Linked DNA regions of Homo sapiens: region 1 is linked to region 2. The links come from fine-mapping of genetic effects on gene expression. A gene starts in region 2. The other region holds a variant in brackets. All regions are shown on one strand. Distances are from middle to middle.

Region 1 (5,373 bases), 21 kb after region 2:
ATCTATACTGGACACTGCCTTAAGAACAGACTCTGATTGCACAAAGGAGAGAGCATATGTGATGATACCAAGTTATGGAAGATGGGCGTATCAGTCAGGGTTCTTTAGAGGGACAGAACTAATAGGAGGTATATATAGGAGCTTGTTAAGTAGTAACTAACACGATCACAAAGGTCCCACAGTAGGCTGTCTACAAGCTGAGGAGCAAGGAGAGCCAGTCCGAGTCCCAACACTGAAGAACTTGGAGTTTGATGTTCAAGGGCAGGAAGCATCCAGCAGAAAAGAAAGATGTAGGCCAGGAGGTTAAGCCAGTCTAGCCTTTTCACATTTTTTTCCTGCTTTATATTCTAGCCATGCTGGCAGCTGATTAGATGGAGCCCACCCAGGTTAAGGGTGGGTCTGCCTTTCCCAGCACATTGACTCAAATGTTAATCTCCTTTGGCAACACCCTCACAGACACAACCAGGATCAATAATTTGCATCCTTCAATCCAATCAAGTTGACAATCAGTATTAACCATCACAGTGGGAGAGGATATCTTAAGATAAGGCTGGGAGTAAGACAAACATTTCAGACACTTACCGGAATGTCTCCCAATCTCTGCAAACATAGCATGCCTCAAACCTTGGTATTCTTTTCACCCTGAAGCTGCTGCTCTATCTCTTATTAATTCTAATTCCCTTCTCCTGGGTCACTGAAACTGGAAACCTCAGTTCTTTTTATTTATCTCTTTGCCTTACCTATATTCACCCTCAAAATGTCATTTGTCCTCTGTTTTCTATTTTAGTCATTACTGCCCTAGAATAGTCCCTCAGCATTAGGGGGGCAGAAAAGTAGCCAGATCCCCCTTGGTTTAATTAATTGCCCTGTACTTACTAGCTTTGACTCTCTGGGTAACTTACTTAACCTTCTGTGCCTCAGTTTCCTCATGTCATTTGAGATGCCAAAGAGTATTTGTCACATGCAGTCAGAGTGAGGATAAAATGTGTAAAATGCTAGGGATAGTGCCTGGCTACGTAATAAATATATAATAAGCACTAGGTATCATTTCAAAAGACTACTAACTGGTTTTGCTGCCTTCTCATCTCACCAATCTATTCCCCAGAGAGTGTGCAGATTGGCCTTAACAATACATGTGAACAAAGCACTTCCTGCTGGAACAATTTCCATGATCCTCTGGACCTTCTCAAGCGGCTTTCAGGCTGTCTTCCCAGCCTTATATACTGCCACACCCTAGCAGGTAGTCTGTGCTTGCCTGGTCCCACCACTGCCATCTGCATCCACATCTCTGTGCTGTCCAGACTCTTTGCCTGGGACTTTTTTCTTCTTTTCTACATGGCCATCTACTTATCCTCTCAGGCACAGATCAGACATTCTGCACTCAGTGGAAACTTTGCTGACCTTCCCTGCCTCATCACCAAGTGGTATTGGTTGTTTCTTTTTCTGTAGTCCTGTGGCAATTTGTATATCCCTCAAATTTAGCCCACCCACCAGAATGAACCATGTAGCAGCCCGAATGGACATTAACCTTATGGCATCCACACCTCGTAGGTGGGGAAGCTATGCCCTTCCTGCCCATCTCGGGTCTCACGGACTTCCTTGTGATCACATTGCCTATACCCTCCCTCATGGCATCACAATACCCTCCTGGCAGCTCTTAGCACAATCTCTAAAGGAATTGAGGGAAACATTTTTCAGTTTGTAGATAAGAGTAGGTGAGATAGAAAGTGAGAGGAATGAGTTTGGGGAAGCATGCCTCTATGAGTTGAATTATCTGATTGTATGCCATGTGTCTCTTCCAACAGCTTTCAGAGACCATTTGTTTGTTTGTTTGTTTGTTTGTTTGTTTTTTTGGTTTTTTTGAGATGGAGTCTCGCTCTGTCACCCAGGCTGGAGTACAGTGGCGTGATCTCAGCTCACTGCAACCTCTGCTTCCCGGGTTCAAGTGATTCTCCTGCCTCAGCCTCTTGAGTAGCCGGGACTACAGGCATGCACCATCACACCCAGCTAATTTTTGTATTTTTAGTAGAGACTGGGTTTCACCATATTGGCCAGGCTGGTCTTGAACTCCTGACCTCAGGTGATCCATCCTTCTCAGCCTCCCAAAGAGCTGGGATTACAGATGTGAGCCACTGCGCCAGGCCAGCTTTCAGAAACTTTTTAATACAAGTGTCAAACTCTAGAATGTTTCTACACCAGGGATTTGCTTTCTTATTTTTGTGCTCACTTCCCTCCCTGGGAGGCAGTCAAGAGAGAGTACAGAATAAAAGCCTCTGATACATGAAAATAGAGATGATGTTCTCCACTTGGGTTACAAAACCCTGTATAGAGGAGAGAGCTGTGGACTCTGCAGTTGTTCACTCTGATGCTCCTTCTTTTAGCAATGTAGCATGGATACTCACATCTAAATTGTTACTGTTCTATGTTGAGTTATTATTGTCTTTCAGGAAAAAGCTACTGAATCCAACTGTGTCAGGAAGCGTTCCCAGGAAGTAGAGCCTGAGGCAGGGGTTGTTGTAAAAGTGACTTATTGAGGGAGTGCTCTCAGGACAAGGGGAGTGAGAGAAGAACAGGGTGGGAAAGAAGCCCAAGTGTGGATGTTGTTTTGGCTGGGGATCAAATTAGCCTAGATCCCATGGAGAGCCCTCTGGAGCATGAATTGCATGACAGAGTTGGACTCCTCTTAGGGTAAGGAGTATGGTCTTTAAACCCTTATGTCGGTCAGTCATTGGCCCCAGTCTTCTCTGAAGGAGTTGAGGTGGAAGTGTGATCTGAATGAAGCAGCTCCTTTTTGGTTGAGACAAATCTCTGATGAACGGAGCACCAGTGGCATCTACCGTACCGACCATCTTGGAGCCAAGAAGTGGGGAAAGAAGACAGATTTGAGGATATGCCGACTGCTCAAAACACAATCTTACTGAGGTACCTTCGAGA[T/G]GCTGACATGGGGATGGGACAAGTGTATGTGCATGTGGTATCTGGATGTGGGAGTCTGTGATGGGAGAAGGAAGCCACAGAATTTTCCAAGATATATGGTATGAGACCCAGGCCCTCTTGGTAGAATGTTTAAGGGATGATGACTTCAGAAGACATGAGGGCCTGACAAAAGTAAGCCTTGGACATTTGATTTTTGATAATCTAGAGTCTATTTAATAAGCCGTAGCCATACTATGTCTGTACCTTGGTCTAGAAATAATTCACTGTGATGATATTATGCTTTCTATTTAATTTAATTTGTTTATTTGGAATTTGTATTTTGGCTTTTAAAATTTAACCCATCTAAACAAGGTAATTCCAAAAGGGAAGTGGATGTGTCCAACCCTTTAATTGGGGAGCTACTGCCAGGAGTTCTGAATTGAGCTCTGTGTTGCCTGAGAGTAAAGCAAAAAGGGACTAAGCATTGGGTTATAAGGTTCTTCTTCTTCTTGTTATTATTTTTAAAGGTGCTGTAATGTGAAGAAGGACCCAAAGCCTTCTTTATCTCTCCCAATAATCTCAAACCAAATAGGTGGAACTCCTCGCATAAGTTGATTTACAAGTACCTCTCTAGATAGCTTTCAACAGTGATTCTTGGGCTCTTCCAGAGGTTCTAGAGCTGCTAATGTCTTTAAAGTAGTTTCTTGTCTGCTTCAACCTGGACTTTTGAGAGTGGATGACCTCAGAAATCTGAAGGAGTTGAAAACATACGTGGAAACATATGTGGGACTGACTTTTATATTTTTACATATTTAAAGATCTTTTTAAAGATCTTTAAATCTGTAGCTTGCTAGTTGATTGTATGACTGTAGGGCCTGTAGATATTTTTATTGCTGTTAGACGGTCCAGCATTTTGCTCCTAAAGTTTTGTTCCATCTGTTCTTCAATGGAAATTCCCATCTCTGCGGTCACCATTTTCTACATGCCTGAGTAAGATCTTCCAGAGGTAGGGTTGCACATGGTGAAAGGGCTTGAATGGGCCAAGTTTGAAGACTTTGTCCTCCAGAATGTCAATAGATCCTAAGAACTGTAGGTATTTGTGTGTGTGTATTTATGAATGAAGTCTATAGATGAAGGCATTGTTTCAACAGCCTGAAAATGGTCTCTGACACATCTGTATTTATTAGCCTCTTTCTTTCTTTCTTTTAGAAGTCTGGTGTAGAAGAAATAATAATCAGTTAATTGAGAGGGTTCATTCATTTGAGTTCTGGTTAAAGTCACAGAAGGCTCTGATCTTAGTCCTATTGACCTCTATAAAACAGCAATAATATTATTAAAGGATGTTGTCAGAAAATTAATTTTCTAAGCTGAGATATAAAGCTTTAAGATATATGTATGTGTTTATAGAGAGTTGAATTTTATACACATCTAATTATATGTGTGTAACAGTGTACCTGGCGTGGTGGAATTTTTTATTTAGAGGTGAACATAGAAAGTCATGTTGGAACAGCATCCTTTAGGTGAAGAATTGGGGCATATTTTGACTTTGGAAAATGGTATACAATTAACTGTAAAAAAAAAAAAAAGTCCTGTGTCTTAGCAAAGGCTTCTCCTCAGTTTGCAGAGGTTTGGGGAGGGAGTGGATGTATTTGAATAAGGATCCTAAAACCCTTCTGAAAGAGAAGGAAGGGAGGCACCAATTCCTACTACCAAATGTTAAAATTAGGAAACCCTGCCACAGTGGATTGTGATGGTCTTGACCAAGGTGCATGAGAGAAGAGGACAGTAAGGTCCCAAAGGCCAACTCACCACAAGGGGAAGTAGAGTCTGGCAGTGATCTGAACTCCACACAACAGCATTAACTCCAGGTTAAAGAGCTCAGTCTGGTGCACTATGAGTCTGAGTGCAGAAGATTTACAGGTAGGAGTCAGGAAACTATCAAGTTTACATGTTGCAATAAGGAGGTTAGACATTCCATGATGCTTTCAGAGCCATTGATGGGTTTTAAGCAAGGCAGTGGCTTGGTTTTTGTATGAGAGAGCTCATTTTAGTGACCAATATGGAGGATATTTTTAAGAGAAACAAGAATAGAGGCTGGGAAGCTATTGCCATGATCCACGAAAGAGGAAAAGACAGCTTGAATGAGTCAGTGGTGAAGGAAAAGATTCAAGAAGTAGGAGGTAAAGTGATCATAGCTTGGTAATTGATTGGCTCAGGGGGAGCAGTCATTAATTTGTTTGCTATTTGTGCTGTTTATTATTATTACAAATGGCAGGGATTAGAATAAGTGGCCAATTATTCTCTTCCTGTCTACTTGTTTTTAGCTGCTGGTCTCTAAAATGAAAATTATGAAGATGGAACTTTGATTAGCTTCTCCTACTTTCATAATGACTGTGGTTATCATTCCCAGTTTATTGAGTGAAGTCATTGTTTAAATTTGCATAAGTGGCTTTTGGATAT
Region 2 (5,373 bases):
AGAACGGGAGTTCTGAGAACGAAGTGATGAGGAAAAGAAAGCTTAGACTTAATGGAGACACATGTTTAGTATAATACAATATAGAGCATATACAGCTATTCATACAGACAAATATACATATCTAGTTTCTAAACATATAAATCAACAAGGAGAGATATAAAACAAAAAATGAACCTCAGACACCACGTTTTATTTTATTCAGATGGAAAGAGTTTGGATAAGTACCTAATATGTACATTCATTTAGGGAATTCTAGGCTGTTGGGACTGATCAACAAATGTCTTACCTGTAGGAGCCCTAAATTCCTTGTGAGAAATGATAAAGGGAACTTTGGAACTGACTGATGGTTCAGCCACCAAGACACTAAGATTATGACTTTCAAAAAGAAAAGCCAAAGGTTGCCTTAACTTGCAGGGGGATCTAGATCTCAAGGGCAGTGGTGCTAGACTCTCAGAGGCACACAAGAATATAAAAAAATCAACAAGTAATACCTTAAGTCCGAGCATCTAGCCGTGGAGGACTAGTTTGATTCAGGGAGAAATGCTATCCAAATGACTCCAGGTGCTGCCACTCAAAGGCCCTCTGACCCAGGCCAGCTCCTAGGGAATCGTTTTTAAAAATTCTTAAAAGGAGGGGAAGGAAGGATTACAGAGCAGGGGAAGAGGGCAGCGCTAGACTTAGCAGCCTGGGCATTGAAGAAGGACTAAAATAATTGTTTCTAGTGGGGAAACCTCTAACAAATATGGTTATCGGAGCTACAGACTGGGTGCTAGCAGTGGCAGGAGCTATGTGACTAGCAGAGCAGGGACACCAGGGGAAAAGAAGGAGGGGCTTATGTGGAGGCTCAGAGAGAACACTGGCCAGTGGCTCCAGCTGAAATACTCCTGGAATTTGGAATTCTCACCTAAATCCTGATCGCCAAGGCTAGTGTGACTTGGTAAAGCAGGAGTGGCCACTGACATCTCCTCACACAAAATCAATGGAACTGGGGAAAGAACAAGGACTACCCCAACAGCTAAACCTGGAGGCATCTCCCTGATAATGACTTCCTGCAACTATGGGTTAAAAAAAATCCAGCCTTAAACATGGTGAACCATGTTGGTGAAGAATGGATACGTGGTATAATGAAGTCCATGGAAGTCCAGGTATCCAGTCCCAGAAAAAGCCAGGGAAGAAGTGTTAAGTGATACTGCAAGCTCAAGATCTGTGCTCATCAATAGGCTTCAAACAACTTCATTTCCTCTCCACGCAAACAACAAAAAAAGGCTTTTAAAATGGTGGCTTTCCTGCAACTGAGAAATGTTTTAAAGAAAGTATAGTGAAGCCTGGCTACATCTATCTCTATTTACAACAGAGTGCTTTTAATATTCAAGTCTAAGTAAGTAAACAGACAGTTGAGAGATTTGCTATTTTGTCTTACTGAGATCCTGCCAATGAAGAAAGTAAATACTCTTGAAAGCAAATGTTTAACTGAGAACTAAACCAAATAAAGTATGGTTGAGAATTTTTAAGTGGTTAATTGAAAAAGACCAAACAAGACCGTCTGTAATTTTCCAAAAATATAGACTGCTTCAAATAGAACCTACGTCCAGTTCTGGGAATCAGCAAATCAATTAGAATCGCATCTGATCAACTTTATGCCCCTTAAGTAGTTTTAAAATTTCAGTACTCAAGTACAATCAATGATGTAATCAGCCTCACAACTTAGTTATTTGCATGAACTTCAGGAAATAACGGCTAACACAGCCCCTTTTGGACAACAGAAGTAATTTTTTAGTTGGAAGAAATTTAATGGAGTTATGGTTCAGTTGCTGTTTACAGCTTGAGAATTAAAACGTTGGGTTCACTCTATATTCAAGAAGACATCCATCTCAAAACCTTTTTTCATTTAAAACTAATCTGTAACTGCAATATGAATACAAATGCAAGTTTTAAAAATTCTTTTAAAATGAGAATAAAAACCTACAGCTTATAGAAACTGTAACATTGTAACAATACGTTTAAAACTGGTCATTGAATGTAGGATTCATAAGTACACATTTTCTCATCTAGTAATTTTTTTGGCATAAGTTTCAGTTCAGGAAAAGTTCAGATGCAACATTTTATGGAGTGTTAAATATTTCTGTACTGGGCAAAACTACTGAACTTCATGGTCACTACCACACCGTCAGCTGTCTGTGAAAAATCTACTTGCAGGGCAAGTTAACAGGTTTCTATGGCTCAAGTTTGCTTAAAATACAGAACAAAAAAAGTCACCTTGGCATGAATATAATTAAGAAATCAGCCGTGTGCTTCTCACGTTTGGGCTCCGAGACGTGGGAGATGCCCGCTAACCTAAGACCTTCCGAGGGCGATGCAAGGACCCGGACAGAACTTTCCCGGCCGCAGACCCCTTCTAGGGCACACCTGGCCTGGCGCGGCCGCGGGGGCCTCGGGGCTGCGCGCGCAACCCGCCCGAGGAACTGTCAACGGCCGCGGAGCCTCGGCAGCCTCGGCGGCTCCGCGCGCCCACAGCCTGGGGAGCCCCGGGAGGCAACGGCAGCCGCGCGGCTCGGGGGCCGGGGTTCCAAGGCGCCCCCGCCGCCCTCGGTCCCCAGTCCGCCCCTCGGAGCCCGCCACGGCCTAGCGCCGCCCGCCTCACCTGTGCGGCCCCGGCGCCTCTCCCGCCGCCGGTCGCTCTCGTAGAAGCCCAGCGTCTCTGTGAGCTGAGGCGCCGGCGGGGGCCCCTGTCCGCCGCTGCCGCCCGGCTGCTCCGCCTCGCCGCGGCCGTCCCGCTGCGGGCCGTCCACGCCGCCACCGCCGCCTTCTCCCGGAGCGGCCGCGTCGCCGACGCCCGCCATGTTCCGAGCACAACAAACTGTCCCCGCCGCCTCCCTCCAGCCTCTGCCTCCGGCCGGCCCCCTCCCCGCCTCGCCCCGCCCCTCGCCGGAGCCCGAGCCGCCGCCGCCGCCGCCGCCATCCGCGGCCCGCCGACCGGCGCGAGCCATTGGCGTCAGCGACGCGTGTGAGGCCGCTGCCGCCGCCGCCGCCGCCACGGTAGCCGCCATCTTCTTCCTGCCCTCGCCGTGGCGGGCGACGGTTTCTCGCGCCGTGGCTGGCTCGGCCGGCCGGGGCACCGCGCCGGGCTCCATGCAGCCGGGCTGCGCGGTCCCGCAGAGCGGGCGCCTCCGGGGCTCGAGTCGGGGACCCGGCAGGAGCGGGCCGGGGATGGCGGCGGCGGGCGGCGGGTCGGCCGTGGAGCCCCGGAGAGGCGGCCGCCACCACCGCTGCCCGCAGTCTGCGAGGTGTCCGGCGGTCCGCTCAGGGCCTCTTTTGCAGACTCGGTGCCCGGAGTGCGCCGGCGCCGCCCGCCAGGTCTTGGCACTGCTGGCGCGGCCGCGGCGGCGGGGGCCCGGCTCCAGATCACCGACCCCCACGAGCGCCGGCCCTGCCTGCCCGCTATTTTGGTTCCATCTCTTCTGCATATTTATGCTTGCCTGTTACATTCCCTGGCCTCTGAGTGTCCTTTGGCAGTTTCCAAAGCATTTGGGCAAGAAGGAGCTTGGGCAGCTTCACAACAGGTGGGGACGCGCAGGGGAGGGGCCGCGGCCGGACCGGCAGAGTTTCAAGGGCTGGCGCGCCGGCGGACTTTCCACACTGTCTTTCGGGACTGGGGTTAGGAGACAGCCCTTGGCCACCACTGTGTCCTTACTTTGTCGCTTTACTTGGGGCTGGACCTCCCCTTTCCAGCTCTGGCGTGTGACCCCGCAACGAGCGTGGTGTCGAGACCACCACCAGCTGGGGCGGTGGGAGCGAAGGTGCCCCAGGCTCGGGGAAGGTGGAAACCTTTTCCCCGCTCCCCAAGTGATTGTTGCGCGCTCCGGTGAGGGGACAGTGGTACCTCGATTTCCCGTGTGCCAGCTTCGGGACTCAGCTGTGCTTTTGTGTCTCTTTGATTAGCAAAAGCAAAACGAATTCCTCCCCGAACACTAAGCTTCCTGGAAACTTCCCTAGACCTAAACTTGAGAACCGCATATAAATGGGCCTTGAGGGTTCTGTCGTCAGTAGCGGGTTACGTGATTGCAAACGAGCAAGTTTAAAACGGAGTGGGCTTTGGGCTGCAGAGCCGCCTGGCATTCTGACAGCTGAGCAGGAGGCAGAGGTGAGAGTCCAAGATGGACTAAAAATGTCCCAGCAGCTGGGAGCCCAACCTCGGCCCAACCTCGTTGAAAGGAGGAACATTCGGTGCAGCCGTCGGAACCTTATTATTTATGAAAGGGGACAGCTCACAGGATTACATTTTTCTAAGCCAATCCTGTGACCATCCTCCATGAAATTCTCTATTTTGGTTGCATGTGGTCAAAACTGAGCCTCACTGAAACAATTGAAAACAAATACTCCCGACAAATCTTAAGAATCGTTTTGAAAATCAAAAGGTGGGGAAAATGTTGTGGCTTCTGAGCTTTCTTCAGCCCATATTCTATTATTCTCTGATGTTTTATGGTGTAAAATCATACCCATTCCATTATGTATTGATTGTCAAGAAGGAAGTAGGCTTTTATTGCTATTTTTATGTCAGTTTCCATTTACTGTCTCACCACATTTATTGGGTTATTGCCTTTGCCTTTGACTCAACAGGAGCTGGAAGGGTAGGAATCCCAAATTCTGTTGCCTAAGGCAGCCAGTTGTCAGAATGGACTTTCCTCATTTTCTATTATGAGGCCTGAGGAAAGACATTCAGTTCCAAAGGCTGTGCCTATCCTTTTAAATAGAAGAGAGAGGGCCCGGCACGGTGGCTCACGCCTGTAATCCCAGCAGTTTGGGAGGCCGAAGGGGGCGAATCACGAGGTCAGGAGTTCCAGACCAGCCTGGCCAACATAGTGAAACCCCGTGTCTACTAAAGATACAAATATTAGCCGGGCGTAATGGCGGGCGCCTGTATTCCCAGCTACTCGGGAGGCTGAGGCAGGAGAATGGCTTGAATCCGGGAGGCGGAGGTTGCAGTGAACCGAACCGAGATCGCGTCGCTGGACTCCAGCCCGGGCGACAGAGTGAGACTCCGTCCCAAAAAAAAAAAAAAAAAAAAAAAAAAAAAAAAAAAAAAAAAAAAGAAAAGAAGAAGAGGAAGCAGCCGTGCCAAAAAAAAAAAAAAAAAGAAGAGGAAGCAGCCGTGCCGAGGCTAGGTACTGCCTAAAGAAGCGGGGGAACAAATTGGAAATGTGGGAATGCGAATGTGGGCAAGTTGAGGAACTTGTAGCTTCTCGTCGGTTGAATCTTTTCACTGAAGCTGCTTTATTATATCTGACATGTGAAACTACACAATTTCAAACAAACCCATATTGAAGTCAACATACAAAAAAGCATTTAAAAAACAACCATTAGTAAAAATAATTT

Evidence for each region. PIP is the estimated chance that this variant, and not a neighbour inherited with it, causes the effect.
Region 1: its variant is fine-mapped to the expression of TAPT1-AS1 in unexposed skin (GTEx, PIP 0.92).

Annotation. Positions count from the first base shown.
Region 1 is chr4:16,244,864-16,250,236 of GRCh38, forward strand. All of the region lies in intron 2 of TAPT1-AS1 (TAPT1 antisense RNA 1), which reads left to right. Among named protein-coding and RNA genes, the nearest start is that of TAPT1-AS1, 21 kb to the left of the region's middle. The variant T/G (reference allele first, on the strand shown) is at 2,935.
Region 2 is chr4:16,223,618-16,228,990 of GRCh38, forward strand. It overlaps TAPT1-AS1 (TAPT1 antisense RNA 1), which reads left to right and starts at 3,046. Exons shown (of 3, transcript NR_027697.1): 1 at 3,046-3,560. It overlaps TAPT1 (transmembrane anterior posterior transformation 1), which reads right to left and starts at 2,854. Exons shown (of 14, transcript NM_153365.3): 1 at 2,642-2,854. The coding sequence starts at 2,840. RefSeq lists silencers at 2,407-2,786, 2,897-2,946, 2,957-3,056, 3,067-3,136, 3,197-3,396 and an enhancer at 3,907-3,966.